Linked DNA regions of Homo sapiens. The protein of the gene in region 2 interacts with the protein of the main gene of each other region in a pairwise test. Each region holds a gene or a part of one and is shown on either strand. Other genes may lie near its edges. The genes, in order: YWHAB and SSH1.

The links.
Region 1: the proteins of SSH1 (region 2) and YWHAB interact in binary tests that used the Homo sapiens proteins (3 or more experiments, as listed by UniProt).

What each region holds. Positions count from the first base shown.
Region 1 is NC_000020.11:44,895,627-44,899,446, reverse strand, and holds part of YWHAB (14-3-3 protein beta/alpha), read right to left. Parts: intron 1-3,820. UniProt on the Homo sapiens protein: Adapter protein implicated in the regulation of a large spectrum of both general and specialized signaling pathways. Binds to a large number of partners, usually by recognition of a phosphoserine or phosphothreonine motif.
Region 2 is NC_000012.12:108,777,622-108,781,388, forward strand, and holds the end of SSH1 (protein phosphatase Slingshot homolog 1), read right to left. Parts: 3' UTR 570-3,767; downstream 1-569. UniProt on the Homo sapiens protein: Protein phosphatase which regulates actin filament dynamics. Dephosphorylates and activates the actin binding/depolymerizing factor cofilin, which subsequently binds to actin filaments and stimulates their disassembly.

The DNA.
Region 1 (3,820 bases), on a different chromosome or scaffold from region 2:
GTACAGTGGTGGGATCTCGGTTCACTGCAACCTCCACCTCCAGGGTTCAAGTGATTCTCCTGCCTTAGCCTCCCAGGTAGCTGGGATTACAGGCACGTGCCACCATGCACAGCTAACTTTTGTATTTTTAGTAGAGATGGGATTTTGCCATTTTTGGCCAGGCTGGTCTTGAACTCCTAAACTCAGGTGATCTGCCCGCCTTGGCCTCCCAAAGTGCTGGGACTTACAGGCGTGACCCACTGCACCTAGCCAATGCCAGTATTTTCAAAACAAATTCTTTCATTACTACATACATGGTATCACAATTTAAGGCTCTGAAAATGATTATTTGTTTGGAGACGGAGTCTCATTCTGTCACCCAGGCTGGAGTTCAGTGACGCAACCTCGGCTCACTGCAACCTCTGCCTCCTGGGTTCAAGCGATTCTCCTCAGCCACCCGAGTAGCTGGGACTGCTGGCATGCACCACCACACTCGGCTGATTTTGTATTTTTAGTAGAGGTGGGGTTTCACTACATTGCTCAGGCTGGTCTTGAACGCCTGACCTCAGGTGATCTGCCTGCCTCGGCCTCCCAAAGTGCTGGAATTACAGGTGTGAGCCACCGCACTTGGCCTCTTTGCTATTTTTAAATTAACCATTTTCTGCTGGGCGCAGTGGCTCATGCCTGTAATCCCAGCACTTTGGGAGGCCGAGGCAGGTGAATCACGAGGTCAGGAGATCGAGACCATCCTGGCTAACACGGTGAAACCCCGTCTCTACTAAAAAAACAAAAAATTAGCTGGGCACAGTGCACGTGCCTATAGTCCCAGCTACTGGGGAGGCTGAGCAAGAGAATCGCTTGAACCCGGAAGACGGAGGTTGCAGTGAGCAGAGATCGCGCCACTGCACTCTGGCCTGGGCAACAGAGCAAGATTCCATCTCAAAAAAAAAAGGAAAAAAAAAACAAGAAAGTATGACCTCCACTCACAAAATGATTTTGCCTCAAAAGTCATTTCTGTATTTTCAAGAGAGAAATTCTACACACAGGGCCTTATCACCTAAAAATGTTTTAGGGAGCACAATAAGATACACTCAAAATCTAGGTGATTCAGAAAGAATTGATTCTCCAGTTCATAACTATAATTTTTCTTCCTACTGCTTATTATCTAAATCACATGCAGAGCTGTGTCTTATATAAGGCTCACTAATTGTAAGCTTACACTCAGTGAGGCAAGTCTCACTTTGATCCATCTGACATCTTCACTCACAACACTAGAATAAAACTAAGGCAGAGAGAGTAATCCTCAAGAAACATTCCATTTGTTCCCTTCTATTTCCCAGAACCCCCACAGCAGTCAGAAGAGGCCACATGGTAGTTCTGTCCAATGAAAGATAAGTAGAAATGACGCTACTTCCAGGCTAACACTGTGAATATCCTACGTGTGCCTCCCCAGGCTCTTTTCCCTCACAGCAGCCACTGAGAAGGCCATGTATTCTAGGTGGTACAGTCATGCAACTGTAGAGTTTTTGTCAGCCTGAGTCCCCGGGTGACTGTATAGTGCAAGACTCCTGCAGACCTGCATTGGACACGCAGGGTGAAAACAAAAGAAACTTTTGCTGGGTTAAAACATTGAGATGCTGGAGCTGTTGGTTACCACAAGACAACCTGTTCTACTCTAATACAAGTACATCAAAAATACTCTACCATCTTAAAAGTATATATAGTTGGCCCTCCATATCTGCAGGTTCCAGATACACAGATTCAACCAACCGTGGTGGAAAATAAAGAAGGAAAAAAACACAAAATAAACAAGTATCTTCAGATTTTGGTATCCCCAGGTGTCCTGGAACCTACACCCCCTGGATACCAAAGGATGACCACTGTCTTCATATATCTAACTTTCTTGACCATAAGGTCTTTGAGATCAGGACAATAAATATCTTCATCATTAAATAACCCTACTTCATGGTTTCTAAAAGTGCCAGGTACACCAGAAAGAAGCCAACTTTCAATGACCCAACAACCTTCAGAAAATTTCCAGTCTGTAGACTAACTCAAAGTTAGAAGTCACTTAGAGGCCCACTTCAAAGTTCATAGAACAGTACCTATGCAACTCTACCTGTGGATTACTCCAAATCATAAAGTACTGGCCAAAAGCCAATTCAGAGCTAAGCCATCCCATGTGGTATCATAATGGAGTAATAAAGGATTGCCGTTGCTAAATAATGCCATCAACCTCTTCAGCTCTACTAGGCCCCAAAATTAAGCTATCCCCCTTTTACTTCTCTCCTTCTCAAGGATTAAAAGTTAAATCATACTACTCCAAAGAATCTGGACTATTCAGTGGGACCTCCCAAATATGCCTTCCCTATTTCCCAAAATAAAATGCACCCTTTCTGTTTGGGGTCAGCTATTTTAAGCTTCTCCGAGATTACTGCAAGATTTCTTAGAGATTGAGAACCATCATGGCAAGATAAGGACTGAATGCACACCTTTTTAAAATCTGTATCCATTTATCTGTTTCAAATATTTTTAATTATACACATACAGAAACAACTTACAACAAACAAAATCCATAGCTAAAGGTCCTGATGGCTACTGCTTACATAACTTTTGACTTATATAACATGGATTTTGAAGCAACTAGACCAATTTCAACAGGAAATGGGTTACACAACACCCAGCAGTTTGGAGGAAGGCAGCAAAGGAGAAATGAAATTGTTCCTATTTCTACATCTACAATAAATCTCCCATCCAAAATCTTGCCCTAGTGGCAATGCTTTCAGTCACTCATTATCTACAGCCCCCTCCATGCCTTTGCTGTAAGACCCATTTTCCTATAACTCTGCTCAAGTCACTTCCCGCTCAAAATTCTTTAAAGTTCCCTGATGCCAAAAGCAGAGTCAGATTTCCTCCCCTATCAGTGAAAGCTTGCCAACCTATCTTCCAGACCCCCACATCATGCCTTCCACATCATATGTGCTTCTGCCAAAATGGTTTTCTTACATACAAAGTATGCTTTTCTATCTTTGCTCACCAAGCCACTCCCTCTACCTGGAATGGCTTTTCCCAAATTTACTCTGCATACAAGATTCTTCACAGTGTGGCTCAGATACCATCCCTTCCATGAAGCCTTTCTTAAGCTGTTTAAGCCATAGCCATAGCTACATGTGGCTATTCACTTAAAATGTGGCTAGTGCCACATATTGAAATCATATTTTGTTCATAATGGGTTAAGTAAAAACAGATAGAATCAATTTCACTTTAAAAAAATTTTTAAATGCAGCTACCAGAAAAATTTAAATTACATGTGGCTTATATTCTATTCCTATGGGACGGCATTGCTCTAATGAATATATTCTCACAAAGCATTTCGCTGATACCTGTCAATGTCTTACCACGTTTCTTCAGTACTAAAATTACTTACATAGTGTCTCCTATTTCCCTTCCTACACCATAAGCTCCTTTGGACATATCTCCCACAGCATCCTGTACATAATTGGTAGGAACAAATATCTGCTGAATGAACAAACTGATCCTGAAATGTAAGCATAAAACTGCAGAGTTGGTAGAGTTCTCCCTTTTCTCAAATAATTCAAAGCACCTATTAGCCTCACAAGCATATTAAATCTTCATTACATTTGTACCTAGTTTCTTGAATTTCTGTGCCCTCTGAAATTCAAAGAGTAATTCACTCTTCCAGTCAGGCATGGCAGATCAATCTATAATCCCAGTGCTTTTGGAGGCCAAAGCTGGAGCATCGCTTGAGACCAGGAGTTCAAGACCAGCCTGGGCAACATAGTAAGACCTTGTCTCTACAAAAAATAAAATATTAGCCAGG
Region 2 (3,767 bases):
GCTTTGGCAAATGAAGCAGGGGCTCCTTTTTAAAAAAGATCTTTATAAAAAATCAAGTCAACATGAAATTGGAATACGAAATTAATATAACTGAGGTTTTCCCTCAAATCCTATGCTTTTAAGCTAATGATTCTACAGTCCTAGAACCTTTTTTTTTGTTTTTTTTTTTTTTTTTAAGAGACAAGTTTTACTTTGTTGACTAGGCTGGAGTACAGTGGTGCCATCAAAGCTCACTGCAGTCTCCAACTCCTGGGCTCAAGCAATCCTCCTGCCTCAGCCTCCCCTTTAGAGTAGCTACATCTATAGGCACATGCCCCCACACCCAGCTAACTTTTAAAGTTTTGTGGAGATGGGGTGTTGCTTTCTTGCCCAGGCTGGTCTTGAACTCCTGGCTTCAAGCAATCCTCCCACCTCAGCCTCTCAAAGTGAGAGGACTGCAGGCATGAGCCACTGTGCCCAGCCTGCAACTAACACTTATGGTTATCAATACTCCCTCCCTTAGTTAACTGTCTTAGGTATCATAATAGCCTTTCTTATATGTATCAAAACTCATACTGAACAACAAGTTCTCAGTTGCAAAAGGAGATTTATTGTTTGCACCTGTCTATAAGTACTTGCCCACAAGTTAAACAAACGCACGCATAAGTCCACAGGGGCTCCTTTTCATGGCATATCTCATTTACTCCCTCACTCTCTCAGCATCTGTTGAGCATCTACTGCCCTCTAAGCATTGCACACATGCATTAGGGACTATTTTCCTTGGGGAGAAGATGGTGGGGTAGAAATTGCATGAATTTGGAGTCAGGCACTCCCAGCCTCTGCCCCTTCCTGGCTGTGTGTCCCTGACCCACGTTACCTAACCTCTCTGAGCATCCACTGCTTCCTCTGTAAAACAGAATCATATCTGCGGTGAGGATTAACTTGGTAATACATGTGAAACCCTTGCAACTAGGAATATATCCTCCAATTCCAACAATAACAACCACCATTTATTTATTAGGTAGTGTGCCAGGCAGAAGGGGATTTGCATGCATTATCAGTGAATTCACCAATGACCCCATGAAGTAGGTAGCATTGTCAGTTTGTTCTGATCCAATTTCAAGAGCAAGAGGGAGGTCTACCACCACCACCACCACCACCACCACAATGTACCATTTGTGGGATAATTTGTCTTTTTAAAATCTTTTATTTTTATTTGTTTTTGAGACACGGTCTTGCTCTGTTGCATAAGCTGGAGTGCAGTGGTTCGATCTCGGCTCACTGCAACCTCTGCCTCCCAGGCTCAGGAGATCCTTCACCTCAGCCACTCAAGTAGCTGGGACCACTGGCACACCACCATGCCTGGCTAATTTTTGTATTATTGGTAGAGATGGGGGTTCACCATGTTACCTGGGCTGGTCTTGAACTCCTGGGCTCAAGCAATCTGCCTGCCTCGGCCTCTCAAGGTGTTGGGATAACAGGCGTCAAGCCACCGTGCCCAAATTTGTCTTTTAGAGTCGGATGCTGGAGCATCCTCTCCTAGGCTGGGAGGTTGCTAATGTAAATGCCACACTGTATTTGCTGAAGTGGTTTACAAAAAAAAGGAATTTCAGGTTGAAAATGGACTCTTAACAAGGTACTTCAGGATGCACAATTTCCATTTAAAGGCAAAATATGGTGAATATGATCTACGGGAAAGAAACACACCTTGTGTCACCCCAATAGCCTTTGGAGCAAGAAGTGGGTCCAATTTCCCAGGGGCTGGGGGCTTCATCTCCAACTCATCTGCTTCCTTGCTGAAACCACAAGGGAGATCAAGATGCATCTTTGTCTGGCTTCTTTCTACTTCTGGGGTGGGAGAGACAGCTCTGGGAAGGGTTTCAGATGATGAGGGAGCAGTTCCTATCTGGCTTCATCAATTTTTAGATGTACCTGTAGGCAAATTACTTCCACTCTGTGGGCCTGTTTTTTCATAAACTGAGAATAATGCCAACAAGGCAGTTAATAGAAGGATCCCAAGGTAGTCCAAAGAGTTCAAGAAAGTTAGAAAAAGGACTCTCCTCTACCTTTTTTTTTCTTTTTTTTGTTTTTTGAGACAGAGTCTCACTCTGTCACCCAGGCTGGAGTGCAGTGGTGCAATCTTGGCTCACAGCAACCTCCACCTCCTGGGTTCAAGCGATTCTCCTGCCTCAGCCTCCCGAGTAGCTGGGATTACAGGCGCCCGCCATCATGCCCGGCTAATTTTTGTATTTTTAGTTGAGACGGCGTTTCACCATGTGAGCCAGGCTGGTCTTGAGCTTCTGACCTCAAGTGATCCACCTGCCTTGGCTTCCCAAAGTGCTGGGATTACAGGCGTGAGCCACCGTGCCCAACCCTCTCACCTCTTTTGAGATATGCATCACAGACCACAATGCCCAGTTTGGAGAATTCCAGGGGATTCTTTATGTAAAGCACATAGAAGGTATGTGATAAACATAACCTGGTTTTAGGAGGCAAGGATGCGTGGGTGGGTGGTGTTTCCTGGGTGGAGCTCTCCTTTAGAAAGGGCTTCTTTACCATAAAGTGAATCCCCCTAAGTTCCAAGCCGTCCTCTGTGCTGCCTTTGGAGCCTCTCCCGAACATCTTGCCAAGAGGGGGTTCCCCAGGCATAAACACAAACAAGCATGCGGATCCTCCCCAGCAAAACCACCTCCACTGTAGATGTGATCTGGGATCGTGCCCAACCGCGAGACAGTTACTCTGAGGAGGAAATCAGGGCAAAAGCAGCCCATTACAGGAATATTGTCCTAGGGCCTTGAACAAATAAGTATCGGATGAGTTTTATGAACACACATTGTTAGGGTAGTGTGGGTGTTGTCTCCAAAAAGCATGTGTGCAATGTAATTAGCAAAGCGTGAGCCTACTCAGTTGCATCATATTCTTATTTTGATGGTTTCTAAACTTGGCCATCAGAATTCCCAGGGAATCTCAGAAACATACAGATTGCTGGGGCCCATCCCACCCCATTCATGGCTGGAACCCAAAGAGAATTTGTTAGCTATCTTCAACCTTGCCAGAGAACAGTGTCTTGAACCATGACCCTCAGTGATTTGTTTTTAAAACATTTTACAGAGAGGGCTGCATTATAGCTTGATAACACTATTAGAAGCATCCTGTGGCTTGGCGCGGTGGCTCATGCCTATAATCCCAGCACTTTGGGAGGCCAAGGCGGGTGGATTACCTGAGGTTGGGAGTTTGAGAACAGCCTGACCAACATGGAGAAACCCCATTTCGATTAAAAATACAAAATTAGCCAGGCGTGGTGGCACATGCCTGTATTCCCAGCTACTCGGGAGGCTGAGGCAGGAAAATCACTTGAACCCAGGAGGCAGAGGTTGCGGTGAGCTGAGATCACACCATTGCACTCCAGTCTGGGCAACAAGAGCTAAACTCCATCTCAAAAGAAAAAAAAAAAAGAAGCATCCCACTAAACTTTTAATATTCAATAAGCAATTCTTAACCAAAATTTGGCACCCCATAGAGATTTACCTAGAAGGGGCTGGGCACAGTGGCTCATGCCTATAATCTCAACACTTTGGGAGGCTGAGGCAGGAGGATCATCAGAAACCAGGAGTTCAAGACCAGTCTGGGCAACATAGTGAGACCCTATCTTTTAAATAAATAAATAAATAAATTTAGCTGGGTGCAGCAGTGTGTGGCTCTGGTCCCAGCTACTTGGGAGGCTGAGGCAGGATTGCTGGAGCCCAGGAGATCAACACTTCAGTGAGCCATGACTGCCACTGCACTCC